Linked DNA regions of Homo sapiens. The protein of the gene in region 2 interacts with the protein of the main gene of each other region in a biochemical or structural test. Each region holds a gene or a part of one and is shown on either strand. Other genes may lie near its edges.

Region 1 (7,887 bases), on a different chromosome or scaffold from region 2:
TACCTGACACCATGCAATTCCCACTGCCAGGTCCCAGGTATCCTGCCTAATCCCATGGCAGTCGAACTCATCCAGCCAGAGCCTTGACAAGGCTCATCCACAGCATGGAACACCACATTGAAGTTGTTCCTGGTTCTGCTGTGTCCACACATTTTGAATAGACCCTTCTGCACATACTGAGACCAATCTGTAGTCTTCCAAGAATCAACCACATAGCTGTAGGTTACTCCAGCTGCCATTGTGGGAATGGTGGTAAATTGCCTGAAGGGAGAAGAATCACTTCTGGAAAATGATTTATTAATTTTTTTTTTTGAGACAGAGTCTCACTCTGTCACCCAGGCTGGAGTGCAGTGGCACAATCTCGGCTCACGGCAACCTCTGCCTCCTGAGTTCAAGTGATTCTCATGCTAACAAACACTGGTACCTTCCTACTAAGTTTACTCCAGGCTTTATCTGGATTTCACCAGTTTTTCATTTTCTGTTGCAGGATCCAATCCAAGAGCTCACATTACTTTTAGGAAGCTGCTTTTGGATAAAACATGAGGAAAATGTCTAGAGTAGTAACACTAAATGGTTCTGAGGCTCTGTCTATGTGCCAGATACTGCATGGGTTGGAACATAACCTCCATTTATAAATGAGTAAACTGAGGGTCACAGAGGATCCACAGCAGGCAAGTGGCAGAGGAGGGGCATTGCTGGGGCTAGCAGTGGGTACCACAGCCTTTCCTGCCCAGCACAAACCTGGGCATACTGAGTTTTTCTCAAGAGTTTGCATGAAGACCAGAGCTGACAGGTGCCTGCCACCTCGGTACTTCCAGCGCAAAGCTCTGTGGTCAGGCTCCAAGCACTGAGTTAGATGCCACAGTTCAGTTCATCACCTCAGTTCCCTGCAAGGAGCAGCAAGGGCCAGTGGGCCAGAGCTGTCATCTGAATGCTAGTGAATTTGATCCAGATTCAAGCCCTAACCCAGCCACTCACCAGTGCTGTCTTTGGACAAGCCAATAACCTTTCTGAGCCTCAGTTTCCCCATCTGAAATGTGGAAATAATTGTTCCTAACTTCAGCAATGTTAGAAGATTTAAATAAGAGAATACAGGTCCACTTCAGAGAGCATGAATTCCCACCTCTGAATGGCAAACACAGGCATGCATGCACATGTGTGCATGTCTGTCCATATGCATGCACATAACATCATGGGCAAACTACAAATGTCCTCAATCCAAGAGCACTGCTGCCTGTTGTTTCTTTGTAGATAAAGACGAGGCAATTCACTCCCTGTCTACAGTGGCTGATGTGAATTCCATGTCATGGTTCAGAGACAATCTGGAGGGTGAACTCGGTACTGACAAGAGCTGGGGCTGAGGACGCAGCCTCCCAGTTTCAGATGCTTCTGATGGAGGCAGGATGAGGATGCCCAGTCTCCACTCCCCTGAGGTCCTGGGCCTGGTGGCCCCCAGTCCCTCCACACACTCATCACAGGGGGTGGGCCTGCTCCCTACCACCTGGGTGGGAGGGCTGGGTTTGGGGGTGCTGCTTTCATGAAAGCAACCAACCAGATGAACCTTAATCTTCAAAGCTTCCCCCACTGAGCCTAGGGGGAGAGTGACAGTTCCAGAAGTTACCTGAAAATTAGGTGATTTTTACCCTGTATCCTGAAATTCATAAATCTAGCAAAAGATGACATAAAAGAAAAAAAAGGCAGTAGGAAAGATAAAAGAGAAGAAGGAAGAAAGAAATGAATAAAGAGAGGGAGAGAAAGAAAAAGGGATGGAAGGAAGGTAGAAAGAAGATAGAAACAAAGGGAGAGAGAGAGAGAGAAATAGGGAGGAAAAGTGATAAGAGCTGCCCAATAGATGATGAGAAAGAGTGAGAGAGAAAAAGAGAGGGGGAGGGAAGGTGATAATAGCTGCCTGACAGATGAAGAGAAACAGATAGAGAGAGAGAGGAAAGGTGATAATAGTTGCCCAATAGTTGAAGAGAAAGAGAGACAGAGACAGAGAGAAAGGTGATAATAGCTGCCCAATAAAGAGAAAGAGAGATGGAGAGAGAAACAGAGAAGGAGGAGGAGGGAGGGAGGAAAGGTAATAACTGCCTGATAGATGAGAAAGACAGGAAGATACAGTGAGGGGGGCAGGGAGAGAAAGGCAGAGGCAGAAACAGAGGGAGGAGGAGGAAGAAAAGGTGATATCTGCCCAAAAGATGGGAAAAAGAGAAAGATACAGAGAGAGAGAGAAACACAGACAGACAGACAGAAACAGAGGGAGAGAGAGGGGAGAGAAAAGATGATAATAACTACACAATAGATAAGAGAGAAAGAGAGAGAGAGAGAGGCAGAGAGACAGGAAGAGAGAGACAAAATAGGCAAACTGAGAATCACTTGTTCCTCTAGTATCTCTGCAAAATGCCATTGAGATGCAGCAATCAGAGTGCGCTACCGACGGCTCTCTCACGTTTATCATCTGACTCTCTAAGAACATACAGCTATGCTTGAGTGACTGGGCTTCAAGTGTTTGTTTAAAGCTGTGCATGACAGAGAAACTTGGAATTCCAAGACAAACTTGGAATCTTAATGATCTTGTCTGCGCTCAATTACTTGACCTGATTTTGCTCGGCAAATATTAGCCATCAAGCCAGACACACCTGTAGAAAGAAGCCACATAAAGGGCATTTGCAGTGGGAATCCTTTCTGCCCGTTTTCATAGCACACAAATTGTGTGTTTAACCAATTGTTGCAAAGTTTAAGGGCCTCTTAATAATACACATCCACCTTTCCTAAACTTCAGGGATTTTTCTAAGACAAATCAATCATTCCTTTAGTTGAATGACTTACTGAAAACATTGACTTAATGACTGGCTTTTTCTAACTACAACCATTTATATTTCTCAGCCAGAAATAAAACAAAAAAGAGCCATTCCTCCTGAATACCTGCAAACAATTACAATTATCAGCAAAGTGCTACCCACTCTTTGATATAAAACTTCCCTTGTAATGGAAAGTAGTAGATATAATTTGCCATGATTGGGTCTGCAGGAGAGAAATTAATGAATATAATAATTAAACGTAATACCTGTAGATAGAACTTGTCCCCATAAAAGACACATTTCAAGGATGACTGTGGAGATCCCCATTTTGCTGGGTTCTTCTCAATTGAATAGAAAATCCTGGACATTTATAGGTACCTAGCTAAAAGGAGGTGTGTCCTCTAGGGTGGTATATTTCTACTGCTGCTATAAATCAATATAAAGGAAGTGAGGGCTTTTGCTAACAGTCGATGGCTAATATGTGGAAAAAACTTAGGTGTGTTTGATTGATTGCCATATGAACAATCTGGCTGTTGCCCAACTGCAAACGCACTGACATAAGTGAAAAATTTCCAACTTCCCTCTCGGTGAACCTCAAGGACTCCCAAGTGTTTCCTGAATACGGGCTTGATTTTAATCTTGGGGAGTTCAAATTCACCTGTGGGAAGTCTGCCCCAAGGTTTGGGGAAGAACAGGATGTGGGCTGCTGAGCAAATACAGGACACAGTGCCAAGGGGGAAAGCATCTCTGGGATGGTTTTTCCTGGCAGGACATGCTCTCATCAGCCCCTGTGCAGTACTAGTAACCTCACCTTGGAAGAACGAGGATGACATGAGTGTGGATGTGATCAGAGAGCAGAAGTCATGAGGGATGATTCCACGGAGACCATGGGTCCATAATAGCTTTGGCCACAGTCTTCTGGGTCTCACACTAATTCCACAACAGGAGCTGAGAAACACATGACCTCAAACTGAACCACCTCCAACCATTTCACATGGCTTTGATTTCTTGTCCTTGACATGCACATTGTATGACCCTTGGAGCTTGGCAAACCCACAAAACCTGCCCCCACCTCCACCTATATTGCACACAATCCCCCTCCTTGGATTTGCTATGTAAATATCACTTCACTCTTTGGGACCCTCAGAAGTCATTACCAGACTCTGATAATGCCCCCCAACACACTCTACCAAGAAGGTTGCCTGACACTTATTTTTTAACCAAGACACTTGATGGCCAGTAACTCTTGGTTAAAAGCAGACAGCTTTCCAGGACTTGCCTCTGTTTTCCTAGCCTGGGTGAGCTGTGCCCTGCTTCTCAGCTGAGAGGCTGAGGCCATGAAATGACACTTGGCTTCTTTGCCATGCACTGTTCATCAGTAGTCTATGCTGCATTCTAGAAGGGTACCATGAACCCATGTCCTGTGTCAGCCACCAGTCAGAATTTAGGGCTGGAAGTCTGCCTTTGGCTTCATCCAGATGAAAGTTACATTTAATCTTGGATGTCCTTTTTAATCCTACAACTCTTCCTGTTGTTTCCAGGTGCCTCTTCACCCCTTGAGTAGAACAGGAACACAGAATAGGCTCACTGTGTTTCATCCTCCTACTGCCAGATCAGCAACTGATAAGCACTGGGTGACGAGAGAACAGGTTTACTCACCTACCAGGGAATGCCCAAGACCAGGCACATGCTGGATTCCTCTTAGAAGTGGATTGTGATCCCTTGGTTCCTGGAGTGTTGGACTGAGAATGATAATGCAGCTGGGTCTGGGATCATCAGAGTGTCATGACAGATTAGAATTGTCTGCCGGGAGCACAGCAGGGAAAGATGATGGTAAGAATACTAAATACCTGTGAACAGGAAGGGGTAATAAGTGTCCTTCCAAGACAAAAGCAGACTGTCTGGTCTTAGAGACAGACCTGCCTGGTGACAATTTCAACAGGGGGTAGCAAGTATTAGTACAAGCTGCTATGAGAAGGTAAAGAAAAGCATCTAAATCAGATGAGGGAGGCCATCTCTCAGAGAGGGTGGCACCAAACAGTCTTGAAATACCAGCAGAGGTCAGCCCAGCAAATGAGAGCGAGAAGATGGGATGACGAACAGGAGCGACTCTCCCGGCTGTACAGGAATGGGGGCAGGGAGCCTTCCCCTCCAGGAAAGCATGATGTCCCAGGTATCTCTCAGCTTGGCGGGGACACCCTTCTTGAGAATGTGTGGGATTTTCTGAACTGCGTAACCTCCCCGTTTTTGTTGTTTTGACTGCATCTTTTGCCCATGGTGGTTAGCAGAAAAGATCCTGAGAAAATAAGGTTTGTGAGCTTTTTGTTCAGGAGACACCAGGAAGAAGGAAGTGGTGAAGCCTAGCTGTCATTTCAAAGCCAGCCCAGGTAGGCATCCCAGGTGGGAAATGGGTGACGTCAGTGGAACAGGAAGGATGTGGCGGTCCTGGGCATGCGGGCAGAAGACAATGGGCTTGAGGGCCACCTGCCAACACCGTGTGGGACCTCAGCCTTCACCGTCAGGTGCCTCATCTTGTCCCAAGGCCATTTTGTGGCTCATAAGACACCATTTAGGGAGGTCTTTCCTTGGACTAAGAGAAGGGTTCAGGGGGACAACCTCCTCCAGCAGCAGCCCCTGCCAGAGGACCCTCATCTTCCCCTTCCTACTGGTTAGAAGCATCTGCTTAAACAGCAGGGGTTGGAAGACCACAACCACAAAGTTCCATTTTATTCACCCCAGAACTGCCATGAAGAACAACAGGAAGCAAGATAAGCCCATTAAAGCTCAGAGACTCGGCGCCCGGGCCCCATTTGCAAAGCACCTTCCCCAGGCAATTAAGCCAGCGGCACCCCCACAGCACACTCCAGGAGGTGGGACCAAGCCCCTAAATCCCAGCACCAGAGGACTGGTCATTATGGGGAAGAGCCCCCTGGATCATATGTGGCCATTTATTTATTTATTTACTTATTTATTTTAAGACGGAGTCTTGTTCTGTCGCCCAGGCTGGAGTGCAGTGGTGCAATCTCGGCTCACTACAACCTCCGCCTCCCAAGTTCAAGCGATTCTCCTGCCTCAGCCTCCCGAGTAGCTGGAACTACAGGCGTGCATCACCACACCCAGCTAACTTTTGTATTTTTAGTAGAGACAGGGTTTCACCATGTTGGCCAGGATGGTGTCGATCTCTTGACCTTGCGATCTGCCTGCCTCGGCCTCTCAAAGTTCTGAGATTACAGGCATGAGTCACCGCGCCCGGCCATGTATGGCTTTTTTTTTTAAAGCTACAGAATCCTTTCCTAAATTGGAATTCATGGGGAAGCCCCAAAACATAAAACAGGCCAGTGGAATGCTCCCGAGTGTGGTGAGGGAGTCCCCTTCCAGGCCCCTCCCCTAGGGCCACCTGCCGTCAGAGCTGAGGATTACCTGTGGGAAGCCAAGACCTCCCTTCATAAGACAGGGCACTGAGAGGCCCAGCAGGGCCCCTGGGGCTGCCAGGCACACATCCCTGCCACGAAGCTGAGCTGGGGTCCCAGGCAGACTTCCCAAAACAGCCCGTTGTTCTCCTTCTTCTAAAGATTCTTTCTACCCACAGACCAGTGCCCTGGGAAGCCAGAGGAAGACGGAGATCAGGGAGGCAGCCCAGGGCCCCTCCCACCTCCCACCTCTGAGGGGTCTCTGATTTCTGAACCAGGAGCCCTGTGACCTGACAGACAGACGAGGGGGACAGAAGGACGGGGAGCCTGGTGGGAAGGGTCGGGGCTGTAGCACTTTCCGGCTGCTGCTGTTTGCCTTCCAGTCCCTGAATCCTGTAATCTGTGTGACCAGGGCTCCCCTTCAGGTGTCAGTCTGACCCCAAACTCTAATTTTACCCTCATTGAGTAGCACACCATAATTGCTGGTCATCGTTACCGTTGTAACAATCTTTTGACATTGTATGTCTGATATTTATAATGTCGCTCATTTTTGTTGCTCAGAGAGCCGGTCTTCCCAATCGGGTTATAAGGGGACCCCTTCCTACCCTCCTTCACTCACTCCCCCCACCCCCCACTGCCCCACACCTCCTTGCTGGGCTTTGAGGATCAAGCTGAGACCCGTTGTCTCCTGCTGCCCCTCTGTGATCCCAGTGCCCCAGCAGAGCAGGTGCTCAGCAGGCAATGGCTTTGAAGGTGGGGATTGTGAGTGGCTCACCCATGCTGTCCAGGGGTCCCCAGAAAGAAGTCTTGTGGTTAAACGGGGGCTGGTGACGAGCCAGTTCTCCTCCACCACTCAGCCTCCAGCTGGGGACGATGAGGTCCAGAGAAGGGAAATGACACACAGAGCTGAGACCATGTCCAGGACAGCACTCACGGCAGCTGCTGCCCCCCATCTGAAGGACAGATGAGCTCCACGTTCATCAGGATGCCATCCAACCGCGGAATCTTCCAGCAACAAACACAGCCCTCTAGGGACCCCTGACACACAGAAATCCCATTGCATGCCTCCCATCTTGCTCAGAGTAAGGCTCAAAGCCCTCCCATGGTTTATAAGGCCCTGCACAAGATACCCCTGCCTCTCTCTCCCCCTTGCCCCCTGTAACCATCATCCAGCCCCAGGGCCTTTGCACTTGCTGCTCCCTGTGCCTGAAGACTTTTTCCCCAAATGTCTGGAGACTCACTCCTTCCCCTCCTCCAGAGATTTTCTCACATAGCACCGCCTCCATGCAGCCTTACCGACTGCCCCTCCCCAGCACTCCCTAACACTCCCATCCTCTCCCCACGGCACTCCTCACCATCTGGCCACCTTCTATTTCACTTCTTTATTCTTTTGCCTGTCTGCTCTGACTAAAATGCAAGCTATACAAGGTGGGATTTTTGTCTGTTTTATCCATTGCTGTATACTCAGAACCTAGAACAATGCTTCACACATAGTAGTAGACGCTCAAGAAATATCTGCATTCAGGCCAGGCACGGTGGCTCATGCCTGTAATCCCAGCACTTTGGGAGGCCAAGGTGGGTGGATCACTTGAGTTTGTGACCAGCCTGGCCAACATGGCGAACCCTGTCTCTACTAAAAATACTAAAAAATTAGCTGGGAATGTGGCACATGCCTG
Region 2 (4,498 bases):
GAGGTGTTATCAGCAGGGAGGGAGGAGCTGTCAATATGGGGGAGAGATTCTGGGATGGGGGAGAGGTTCTGATTATTCGGGGAGGGACTTTTAGTGTGGGGAGGGGTTCTTAGTGGGGGGGCTGTCTGTATGGGGGGGTTCTCAGGTAGGGGAAGGTTTTCAGTGCAGGAGCATCTGCCCTGTGGGTGGGCCTGAGACCAAATCCTGTCCCTCTAATGTGGAAGTGGTCTTGAGAGGGTGGGGGGGGATTGTCTGCCCACCTCTCTAAGCCTCACTCAGTCCTGGCCTCTGTCCCCTGAGCATGAGGCCCTGTCTTGTCCCCTCCTCCTGACTCTGCTTGAAAACCAGGATCAGCCCCGGATGGCTTGGAGAACCATGCCAACAAGTTCCAAACACAGAATTAGTGGAAATTCTCTGCTTTAAAACAAAGAATTTTCTGATATATTTTCTTGAGGAATAAATTTTGAGGAATCGGAGAAATACGCAGTAGGAAATTGAAGCTCCCTTTACTCACTCACCTTTACCCACAGACCTACTCAGAATAAGACCACCCTACACTCACCAAACCCCAGGCTCAGTCATGGGTTGTGTCTAAACATAAAATACGCAGGTTTGGTGCCCACACCGCAAACAACACTCCCCACATCATATTACTGTGTCCACCAAGATGGGCTGTTTGCAGGCCTTGGGGCCTCAGGAGAAGCCTGAAGATCCAGGCTTCCTTTAGTTGGCATGTGGAGGCCTCAGCAGTCTCTGGGATGGTGGCCTCTGCTTCCCCAGGAACCTCTGAAAGGGGTGCATGTGGTGGAGGGGCCAGTGTAGGCATCCCTCGAGGGAAAGAAAAATTTGGTCAACAGAACCAGGGTCAGGGACTCCTTGGCTGGACCCATACCATCACCTCCTGGGGAGGCCCAGAAAATGGTGTCCGCGGACCAATGGGGGCTGAAGGGCTCTGATTTCCAAACTGTGACACGTGTGTCCTCTCTCATCCATGAACAGGAGCACCTGGGGAGCCCCAGCCGTGCCTGACAGGTGACTGACCACCCCCACACTCCTCCCACGGCTTGTGGCTGCCCTTGGCTGGAAGTCCAGGGTCATACGACGCCATTGCCAGAATGAAGTGACAAATATGAACAGAAGAAAATGGTTGCTTGCCCGTTTCCTTGTCCCCTAATTATTCAAGGAAGTGACAAATATTGTCCAGACAACTTACATACACTCCATGGCAATTTTTTTCTATTTATAATCTACGCCAGAAGGCCGGGTGCCCAGGAGCTGAAGGTGGGGGTGACACTGGGAGGTGGGAGGGCCAGGCCAACTGGCTGCGGCCATCACAGCTGCGTGGCCCTGGGGGCCGTGTCCCTGTCCAGGCCTCAGAGTCCCGCTCTGTTCATACAGACGCCTATGGCCCTGCTTCTTCCTCCCAGGCCTCCCTCCTACTGCCTGTGCCCTGCCCAGGGCTCCTGTCCTGCAGCCATTCCCCGGGTTCCCTTCCCAGGCCCGCGTACCTGCAAGGACCTGCTAGACCGAGGGCACTTCCTGAGCGGCTGGCACACCATCTACCTGCCCGACTGCCGGCCCCTGACTGTGCTCTGTGACATGGACACGGACGGAGGGGGCTGGACCGTGAGTGTGGGGCTGGGCAGAGGCGGTCAGCCTGGGAGTCCCGGAGGCCAGGCTGCACACCTGGTGGGAGAACACACTCTGGAATTCTCTATTCTCCTGGTCGGGGACAGTCAGAGATGATGGGGGAGATGACCGGTGGGTAAAAGTCCAGGCCTTTGGGGGAGGCTGGGAGAGGTTGGGTGCTCTCCTGCTGTGTGGCTTGGGGCTTGTTGCCTCCCCTCTCTGAGCCCCCATTTCCTCCTTCATCCTGTGGAGTCTGTGAGGAGAACAGGTGGGCGTGCTGGTGACCCCGCCTGTGATGCTCTGCCAACTACAAATGCTGCTCCTCTGGAGGGCGGGTCCCCCGTGCTGTGGGACGTCGGCCTGGCCCCCCCGGCTCCTGTCCCCTGGCTTCTCCACAGGTTTTCCAGCGGAGGGTGGATGGCTCTGTGGACTTCTACCGGGACTGGGCCACGTACAAGCAGGGCTTCGGCAGTCGGCTGGGGGAGTTCTGGCTGGGGAATGACAACATCCACGCCCTGACCGCCCAGGGTAGGGCCGCTGCTGGGGCTTGGGGGTCGGGGGCCCTGAATGGGGGTGCCCCTGCCTCTTGGGCCTGGGCTGCCTGGAACACAAGAGCCTCTTGGCCCACAGGGGATTGGGCCCTGAGCACACTCAGGGTGGCACTGGGACCTCCGAGGGCTTCGTCCCTGCTGCAGGCTCTGGCAGCATCGGGACGGGAGAGGGTCAGAGCTCTGGGATGAAGGCCTCTTCAGGTCTTGGCCCCACTGGCATCTCAGGTCCTGAGAGGGGAAGGAGGGACACAGTGGCCCCATAGTGGAGTTTGGGCCCAACCCCAACTCTGCCTCTAATCCGCTAGGATTTGGGAGTCAAGAGTCTTGCCCTGCTGCTCAGCACACCCTGCCGGGTCAGAGCTACACAGGCCCCGGGGATGCTGCGGTGCTCTCCGCCCTCTGCCTCCATGGAGTCCAGACCTCCTTCCAGGCCCTGCCCCAGATCCCCAGCTCCCATGTCTAAAGGTAGAGAGCCCTTCCGCTGAGACCCTGAAACCTTTCTCTAACAGGAACCAGCGAGCTCCGTGTAGACCTGGTGGACTTTGAGGACAACTACCAGTTTGCTAAGTACAGATCATTCAAGGTGGCCGACGAGGCGGAGAAGTACAATCTGGTCCTGGGGGCCTTCGTGGAGGGCAGTGCGGGTGAGTGTCTGCTTGGGGCTGTGTGGCCTGGGCTTCTGAGGGGGGTTTGGGAAGTGGAGAGAGCGTGCTCAGTGTCCTGGTAGCCTTGTGGAAGAGGCCTCACCTCTCTGAGCCAATTCGTCCATCTCTACATGCAGACACTAACATCTGTGCTCTGTGTAGCATGGGGGTCATGGGACACATCAGTGTATGACTGCAGAAATCCCAGCAAGGGCATCTGGTAGGAAGGAAGTCTCTGCAGAGCAGGGACCTATGCACGGTGACAGCAGCTGATATCTCTGCGGGGCATGGCTGGAAGGGGTCTGCCATGATGGAATCCAGAGTAGAGAATGATGATCCTGACCCCTGCCTCCTGTTCTTCTGTGAAATAAACATAGTACACATTAGGTGGCAGGGCTAGACCTAAAGACAATTTGCCAAGACCACTGCCAACAGCAGGGCAGTATTCACTGGAGTCATGGATTGCACTTCTTGGATTGTGCAGTGCACAACCTGCCTAACCATACATGGAGGACACACCAGGCCAGGCCTCAGGTATAAAGACTTATACTGTCTGTAATGATGTTACTGCCTGTAACGATGCTCACATTTCCTCCTGCACAGGAGATTCCCTGACGTTCCACAACAACCAGTCCTTCTCCACCAAAGACCAGGACAATGATCTTAACACCGGAAATTGTGCTGTGATGTTTCAGGGAGCTTGGTGGTACAAAAACTGCCATGTGTCAAACCTGAATGGTCGCTACCTCAGGGGGACTCATGGCAGCTTTGCAAATGGCATCAACTGGAAGTCGGGGAAAGGATACAATTATAGCTACAAGGTGTCAGAGATGAAGGTGCGACCTGCCTAGCCCAGGCCGGCCTCAGGGTCAGGACGCCTCCACACATAGTTGGTTGGGGGGTAGGGTTGGGAGCTTGGCCCTACGGTTTGTAAAAGAAACACATGTCGTGATTCTAAATTGGGTTTGTCTTGCTGTGCGGAAGAGGTTCAAATCCAGCTCTGTTTCCGCAATCAACCCTTTCAGATTTGTGACATTAACTCACCTCAAACCTCTGTCTTTCCTTGACAATGAGTAAGAATGTGTTCCTGACCATGCCAGCAGGAACCTTCCTTAAGGACAAATACAAGACTTTGAAGCTGCGATGGGCTCAGAGTGCAGCCCTGCTCAGGTCCCTGGGCAGGCTAAACGCCTTCCTGGGGCTCGACCATCTGGGCTTCTCTGTGAGCTGGATGGCAGGGAAGTCAGAAGGCACATTGGAGAGGAAGTTTCTCTTGCACTCAGAGATGCCGTTGCCTGTCCAAGGCCCCCAGCCTCGTAGCCGCAGCTCTGCTCACTCTCCCCCGTCACCCAGGCTTCCTGCCGCCTGCTGTCCTGGGTATTCGTGGGATCTGCTCGCTACTTCCTCACAAGCCGAAGCAAGAGTGGCAGTGTGCCTGTGACTCCCTCATCAAAACGGAGAGAGTGGTTACATGAGGCAGGTGTGAGGGACCCGAGCACTCCTGAGGAGGGAAGAACACTCCTCTTGGCCATGAGTGTCCATCCCAAAGCTGCCCTGCAGCCTAGCCCAGTGCAGATTGAATCAGAAAGCCAAAGCCCCTTCCACCCGCTTCTCTCAGGCAAGCTGCCTGCAAGAGAGAAAAGTGTATTAGTGCAGGAGCTTGTGTCTGCTGAG

The links.
Region 1: the proteins of FCN2 (region 2) and DMBT1 form a complex in vitro, tested with the Homo sapiens proteins (one study listed by IntAct).

What each region holds. Positions count from the first base shown.
Region 1 is NC_000010.11:122,556,012-122,563,898, reverse strand, and holds the start of DMBT1 (scavenger receptor cysteine-rich domain-containing protein DMBT1 isoform e precursor), read right to left. Parts: upstream 3,146-7,887; 5' UTR 3,129-3,145; coding exon 3,068-3,128; intron 1-3,067.
Region 2 is NC_000009.12:134,883,741-134,888,238, forward strand, and holds the end of FCN2 (ficolin-2 isoform a precursor), read left to right. Parts: intron 1-999; coding exon 1,000-1,032; intron 1,033-1,498; coding exon 1,499-1,626; intron 1,627-2,027; coding exon 2,028-2,157; intron 2,158-2,689; coding exon 2,690-2,824; intron 2,825-3,427; coding exon 3,428-3,675; 3' UTR 3,676-3,783; downstream 3,784-4,498.